Linked DNA regions of Homo sapiens. The protein of the gene in region 1 interacts with the protein of each later gene in a pairwise test. Each region holds a gene or a part of one and is shown in the gene's direction. Other genes may lie near its edges.

What was found. Proteins that work in one complex are often made in the same cells at the same time.
Region 2: the proteins of COL26A1 (region 1) and LRRC61 interact in binary tests that used the Homo sapiens proteins (3 or more experiments, as listed by UniProt).

The regions. Positions count from the first base shown.
Region 1 is NC_000007.14:101,544,375-101,547,874, forward strand, and holds part of COL26A1 (collagen alpha-1(XXVI) chain isoform 1 precursor), read left to right. Parts: intron 1-963; coding exon 964-1,116; intron 1,117-2,781; coding exon 2,782-2,865; intron 2,866-3,500.
Region 2 is NC_000007.14:150,322,018-150,326,154, forward strand, and holds the start of LRRC61 (leucine-rich repeat-containing protein 61), read left to right. Parts: upstream 1-1,337; 5' UTR 1,338-1,543; intron 1,544-3,823; 5' UTR 3,824-3,993; intron 3,994-4,137.

The DNA.
Region 1 (3,500 bases):
GCGCCACCACACCTGGCTAATTTTGTATTTTCAATAGAGACAGGATTTCACCATGTTGGTCAGGCTGGTCTCGAACTCCTGACCTCAGATGATCCACCCACCTTGGCCTCCCAAAGTGCTGGGATTACAGGCGTGAGCCACCACCTCACCTGGCTTTTTTTTTTTTTTTTTTTTGAGATGGAGTCTTGTGCTGTGTCGCCCAGACTGGAGCACGGTGGCACAATCTCAGCTCACTGACACCTCCACCTCCCAGGTTCAAGCAACTGTCCTGCCTCAGCCTACTGAGTAACTAGGATTACAGGTGCCTGCCACCATGCCTGGCTAATTTTTGTATTTTTAGTAGAGACAGGGTTTCACCATGTTGGCCAGGCTGGTCTTGAACTCCTGACCTCAGGTGACCTGCCTGCCTTGGCCTCCCAAAGTGCTGGGATTACAGGGGTGAGCCACAACACCTGGCCAAAACAGGGTCTTCAGGGGCTTCGGGTACAGGCATGAGCATCGAGGCTGTCAGGGGCCAGGAGCAGTTCTCAGCCATTTAAACACCTCCAGAGACCACCCTCTCAACTCCTCCTGGGTCCTGCCGGGGAAGGACCCCTGGTTCAGCAGGTACAGGGCCAGCCCAGGATGGTGGCTTATACTTGGTGTTCCTGCCACAGGGCTGAAGTCCCTGGGAGGGACCAATGGGCCTCTGGCCAGAGCCTTTGCTGATTTCACCGTCCCTGCCCCCCTCACCCTCCCAAGCTGCCACTAAGTGTCCCCTCTGGACTGGGCTGGGAAGGGAAGCCCATTTCATTTACACCCCAGGACACCCCCAAGGAAGACTGTGGATCGGAGGTCACCACTGACTGCCTGTGGGCCCCTGACCAACCCTGTTTCTTTCAAGGCCTCAGTTTCCCCATTTGTAAGTTGCAGCCACCCGCCAGGCTCCGGCTGCCACAGTGACTGTTCTTTTCCTCATTGCAGGGCTCCTGGGGCCTCCAGGGCCCCGTGGGCTTCCTGGAGAGATGGGGCGCCCCGGCCCCCCAGGACCACCCGGCCCAGCAGGCAACCCAGGCCCCTCACCAAACAGCCCCCAGGGCGCCCTCTACTCCCTGCAGCCGCCTACAGACAAAGACAGTGAGTAATGCCCCTGGGGGGCCAAGGGAGGGCTGAGCTACGCTGTGTTCTGGGAGGGATCAGCCTTCCTTAAAGGATCCTGGGAAGTGGACCCCACCACATGCCCATCCTGCTGCACCCAACTGGCTCACTCCTGCAGGCCTCCTCCAGGAAGCCCTCCATGCAGTGTCCAGGGCCTGCCAGTGACGATGACAGGGAACAGCTTGGGAGCAAGGCTTGGTCCTGGGGCTAAGCATCCTCAAGTGGACCCAGGGCTAGCCCCAAGCCCTGCTTTTGGCCCCAAAGTGGCCTGTCTCTGCCTCAGTGCTCAGCTCCCTGCCTTTGGGGTTGTGAGCCCCAAAGTTCACTCTGCTGGCTGACTTGGCCCAGATTCCCTACCTGGCTACCCCACCCCACCAAGGTTATCCCTTATTGTACTTGTTCCTCACCCGCCCTCACTGCAGGTCATTCAGCAGGTGTTTAGTGAGCACCTACTATGTGCAAGGCACAGGATTTTAGCCACTGGGGACACAGCAATGTGCAAAACAAACTCCGGCCCTCGGGGGCACCGGCCAGTCCAAGAGAGCCTCTGAACACACAGAAATGTCCACTTCTACCTTGGGAGGTGGGGACAAGGAGGTGCAGAGAGTGGACGGGACCAGGACTCTGGGCCTAAGGGACCATGAGGTAGTGGGAGGCCAGGCAGAGGAGTCCGTGAGCCCTGAGAGGAGCATCATTTCTGGTTAAGTGTCCCGGCAACTGGGGAAGATTTTTACTTTAATTTTTTTTGACATAGGGTCTGTTGCCCAGGCTGGAATGCAGTGGCGCCATCATAGCTCCCTGCAGCCTCTCACTCCTGGGCTCAAGGGATCCTCCCACCTCAGCCTCCTGAGTAGCTAGGACCCTAGGCATGTATCGCCACATCTAACTAATTTTTTTTTTTTTTTTTGAGTGGAGATGGGGTCTCACAATGTTGCCCAGGCTGGTCTGGAGATGTGGTCTCACTATGTTGGGCAGGCTGGTCTTGAACTCCTGGCCTCAAGTGATCCTCCCTCCTCAGCCTCCCAAAGTGCTGGGAGTACAGGTGTGAGCCACTGTGCCCAGCCTGGGGAAGGGTTTTATGAGGAAGGTGATGGCATTGCCCTGGGGCCCTGGGTCTGGTTCAGGATTGGCCAGGGTGAATCAGGTGAGGGGCTCATCCTGGAGGGCCATGGGAGATGGGTTGTTAAACAGACTCCACCCCTGCTCCAGGCAGTGTGGTCGCCATGATGTAATCAGACTCCCCAGGCACAGCTCAGAGGGGTGGGCATGGAGGGCTTCCTGGAGGAGTGAGCCAGTTGGGTGCAGCAGGATGGGCCTGTGGGATGGAGCCTGGAAGAAGATGCCAGCCTGGGGCATTGGAGAAGTGAGCAGGGCAGACCCAGAGTCTGAAGAGCCTGGAATGTTCTAGAAGGTATTTATGTTTTATATGAAGCTGACCGACCTGGCTTTCCCTGCTCTTTGTCTGGGCCTCTCCGTGCTCCTCTGAGCAGTGGGGGCAACAGTATCTGCAGCGGGCCCCAGGGTGATGGGAGGAGCCCCCCTGGGCTTCGTGTGGCCTGGCTCAGGGCTCAGTGCCCCGGACCAGCCTCCCAGCACTGCCAGGTCTGCCCCACCAGACCCCTGGCCGCTCCGCTCTTCCCACAGATGGAGACTCAAGGCTGGCCTCTGCCATCGTGGACACAGTGCTGGCAGGTGTCCCAGGACCCCGGGGTCCCCCTGGTCCACCAGGTAAGTGAATGGTGGGCTGGCCTGCATTGAGGACTCCATCCCCCCAGGGCTGGCCTGAGCCATGGGGCCTTGAGGGGAGCTGGAGGTCGGCTGGCGGTCCATGGCTTCTGGGCAATGCTGGGGACTGGGTCTGTCCCACCCGCTGTGTGGCAGGAAATGAAGCCCCTCGTTTCCTAGTGGCAGTGCCCCTGGGGGACTGGATGCATGAAACCCACGTGATTCTGCTGGAATAAGATGCCTGCATGAGGCTGCCCTTGCATGGGCCAGAGTGGGACACACACCAGTGGGGGATGGGGTCAGGACAGAGGTGGCAGGAAGTCCCTACCTTTGAGGCAGAAACCAAGGGGTTCAAAGGGGCTGGGACCTGGCTGTCAGTCCTGGCCTGACCTTCCATCATCCACATTCCTCATTGGGGGAAGAATGCAGGGCTGACTGCCTTGTCCCTTTCTGCCCGGGAAGGGAGTCATTCATTCATTCATTCATTTGTTTATTCACTGATTCATTCATTCTTTTATTCATTCATTTATTCATTCATTCGTTCATTCATTCATTCATTTGTCCATTCATTCATTCGTTCATTCATTCATTCGTTTATTCATTCATTCATTCATTTCTCTGTGCGTCTCACAAACATT
Region 2 (4,137 bases), about 49 Mb from region 1:
TTTGGTGCACATGTGGAACCAACATGGGACAAACAGGCATTTTGTGCTCGTCCAGGGAACATGACTTCTTCGGCTCCCACACAATTTGTAGCTGCAGGAGTGGCAGAGCACCAGAGTGGATGCAGGCCCAGATGTTCTCTGGGTTAGGTGTTAAGGACTTGTGGGAGTCATCAGGCAGCAGGCATTTGCCCCAGTGTCAGAGGTGTTTAAGCCAGAATTACTCCATCTTGAATAAGGGCTGGGTAAAATGAGGCTGCATTCATAGGAGGTTAGGCATTCTAAGTCACAGGATGAGACAGAAGGTTGGCACAAGATACAGGTCATACAGACCTTGCTGATAAAACAGGTTGCAGTAAAGAAGCTGGCTAAACGCCACCAAAACCAATATGGCAATGGGAGGGACCTCTGGTGGTCCTCACTGCTCATTATGCACTAATTATAATGCATTAGCATGCTAAAAGACACTCCCACCAGCAAGCACCATGACAGTTTACAGACGCCATGACACCATCATGAAATACTCTATATGGTCTAAAAAGGGGAGGAAGCCTCAGTTCCGGGAACTGCCCACCCCTTTCTCTGAAACTCATGAATAATTCAACCCTTGTTTAGCATATAATCAAGAAATAACCAAAAAATGGGTAACCAGTAGCCCTGGAGCTGCTCTGCCTATGGAGTAGCCATCCTTTTACTTCTTTGCTTTCTTAATAAACTTGTTTTCACTTTACTCTATGGGCTTGCCCTGAATTCTTTCTTGCATGAGATCCAAGAACCCTCTCTTAGGGCCTGGATCGGGACCCCTTTCTGATAACACCAGGAGACACCCTGGGTGGATTTCCTGAACCGACCGATAGATGAGCCTTCCACGCGGGAGACCTGGATCCTTATCGTCTTTGTGGCCCCTTCCATCTGCACGTGCGGACGAGGTCCGGGTCGCACTCGGGCGGTCAGCCTGGCACGCACAGCGCCGGCGTGCAGGGGGCCTTGGGTGCCACCGAGTCCGGGAGGAAATCTAGGCCGCCATCCGTCCGGAGACTGGCACCTGTGACCACCACCCAACATGTATTGAACAAGGGCTTGGAGGTCCTTTCTCTAAGGCCGCACCGATAAACGATTACCGACTGTTGACCTCACGGCCCCTTCGCTTCCGGCCGCACCGCCTCGCTGCCCACGCCTGCGCACTCAGGCACCGCAGGTAGGAGGAACGTACCAACTGCGAGGCGGGGGGTGCGCGCGAAGACCCCCGCAGGCTGCGCTTCCGGAAGTAACCCCTGGCGCATCCCGGAATCCAGAGCGCCCACTACGGCCTTTGGCCAGGCCCCCTGGGCGCGTTCCGGGAGCTCAGGCCTGCGGCGCTGGGAGAAGCACGCTGGCCAACAAGTTGGGTGGTGGGCACGCGGCCCAGGGGTCAGGGGCCGCCAGGCGGCGGGCGGCGGGGCTGCGGCTCTTACCTGCCGAGGAGGCGCCGGCTCTGCGGTGCGGAGTTGCGCCGGACTTCCCAGCTTGGCCAGTGGCTCCGCAGGCTGCCGGCTCCACCCCTCAGGTAAGCGGGGACTGGGCCGCCGAGGTTCAGGGAAGGGGGCGGCTGTCGGGGCCCGTGCCGGCCCCGGGGGGCCACCTGCTGGGCCAGCGGTGCCCTCGCGCCGAAACACACTGGGAGAGGCCAGAATCTTCCGGAACAGCCAGCCCTTACCCATCTCTCCCTCTGTGCCGAGAACTGCCCTGAAATACTGTGGTATTAATTAACTCGTTTAACACTAACAATCTCATGAGGCGGGTGCTGTTACTATTCCCGTAATGTAGACGAGGAAACCGAGGCGTGTGCTGGAGCAGGATCACGGCCGTGCTCAGAGACGGGCTCTGGATGCCATGCTCTGACTCCATTGTTAGCCCTAAGCTTCCAGAAAGTAGCAGAGTGCTGCCGTGTCGTTTGTAACAGATCTCACTTTGTGTCATTTTTTTTGCACAGTATGAAACCTAATGATGCATGATTATTATTTAAAACATCTTGCTTAGACTTTATAAGTAGTCAAATTTGCGTGTGGGACAAAACCCCAAAACATGCAATGGCTTGCTCTCCTCTTTTCCTTTCACACGTTCATCTCCTCCTATCCCTTTCTCTCACCACCTTTCAATCTTCTCACAGATGTTGTGGAGGAAGATGAGACTTGAGGGCCCAGCAGGTGCTTAAAATCCCCTGCCTGGTGGGGGTGGAGTAGACACTCTGTCCCCCTGCAGTGCTGGAGTTGAGAGCAGAGGGGCTGGAGAGGGACTGGGCGGAGTGAGAAAGGCCTGGCATAATCATGGAATGCCCAGGGTGGGGTTCTACTTCTCTTGCAGGCACAAGAGAAGTAGAAGAGTGGCCGCTTTCCTTCTGGGCACGCACTTGGGAAAAGGCTTGGTGAGAGCAGCGAGAAGAATAGGTCTAATTTCTTGAGCCAGTGTGCGGAGGTGCTTCCCAGCCCAGGCTAAGCCAGATCACTCAGCCAGCCGCTGGCTGCCTTTACAGATGTACGGCTCCCCGTGAGCAATCAACATGCCTGGCTCTCAGGCATAAGCTGCCTCACTTCCCTTCTGCACAGCACTCCAGGACTTGCCTGCTACCAGACCCATCCTACTTTCTCTGTCAGGAAAAATGAGAGTTCTTCCTGGTCTCTTGAGGCCAATCCCTTCCACCGCCTGTGCCCTGGATCCCTTTCTCCAGGAAGCTTCTCTTCCCTGTGTAGTTAGCCTCCCCGCTCTTCCCAGGTCACCTTCTCTCTGTTTAGGGACAGAGCCAAGCCTTTTCCCTCCCATCCCCACCTCCAGCATTCCCGGTTCCTGCTTCTCCCCCACTTCCTGCTGTACCGCCCACTGAAGGGACCTTTGACCCCGCTGACCACTGCTTTTGGAAAGTCTTTTCTTGGTTTCCCTAACTTCACTTTACTTTGGTTTTTCCTTGTCTCTCCCCTCTGCCTCTCAGTCACCTTTGAGATCTGCTCATCCTCTCACCTCCCTGTATTGTCAGCATTACCTGGGCAGCCCCCTCTGGTGTTTTCCTTCAGTTTCTCTAGAAACTTGCCTGAAGATTTGCCCCAAAATAGCCCACATGGACCTGTATGAGGAAAGAGGCTCACTGTGGAGGCGCTCTCCATCATTCCTCCTCTTCCACTTGAGGCTTAGGCATGGGCCACCTCCTGAACAGCTCTCCCCACAGTCTCCTCCATGCATTGTGCCATCACCCCGCCCTGCCGTCACCCCGGCCTGGCCCGCTTTCCCTTTTGCCTCCCAGGGATGTGCCTGCTTCCCATGTGGCCTGGCTAGGGCGCTTTCCTGACTGCTGCCCACATGATCGACTATGGGCAGGCGTGCAGCCCAAAAGGCCGTGCTTCAGCTTAGAAGCCCTTGGAATCTTGTCTTGTTGTGGTTGTAGGCCTCCAATGTGTTGTCAGCTGTGGTGATGTGTGTCACAAGTAACTTCTTTTTTTTGAGACAGGGTCTGGCTCTGTTGCTCAGGCTGGAATGCAGTGGTGCAATCACGGCTCACTGCAATCTCCACTTCCCTGCTCAAGCCATCTTCCTGCCTCAGACTGCCAAGAAGCTGGGACCACAGGCACAGGCCATCACAGCTGGCTGATTTTTTTGTATTTTTTTTGTAAAGACAAGGTTTCGCCATCTTGCCCAAGCTGGTCTCAACCCCCTGAGTTCAAAGCAGTCCACCCACCTTGGCTTCCCAAAGTGCTAGGATTACAGGCGTGAGCCACCACACCTGGCCACAAGTAACTTCTTAGTTATAAAGTACTGAAATTTATCAATGACTTTCTTTTTAAAATTTACGTTTTAGATTCATTTGGATTCAAGGTTGGCTCTCAACAGTGCCAGCTGCACTGTCATCCTAAAGTACTTCTGTGGAAGAGAACATGGTGGTGTCACTGTTGTACCAGTGATGACACAAAATCCCAGATCTACCTGACGGGCCTGCGAGGGTTGAAGATTGTGAAGCAATAGCCTAAGGTAAACAACACCTTGCAAGACGGGTCTAAGCTCTTCAGTGTAATAGACCCTGTTTCTCAGTAGGTCAGCCCGGGGGCCCCCCAGGGATCCCTCCCCGCCTCATAGCACCATACCCCACTTTCCCCCTGGTCTAATGATGAGCCC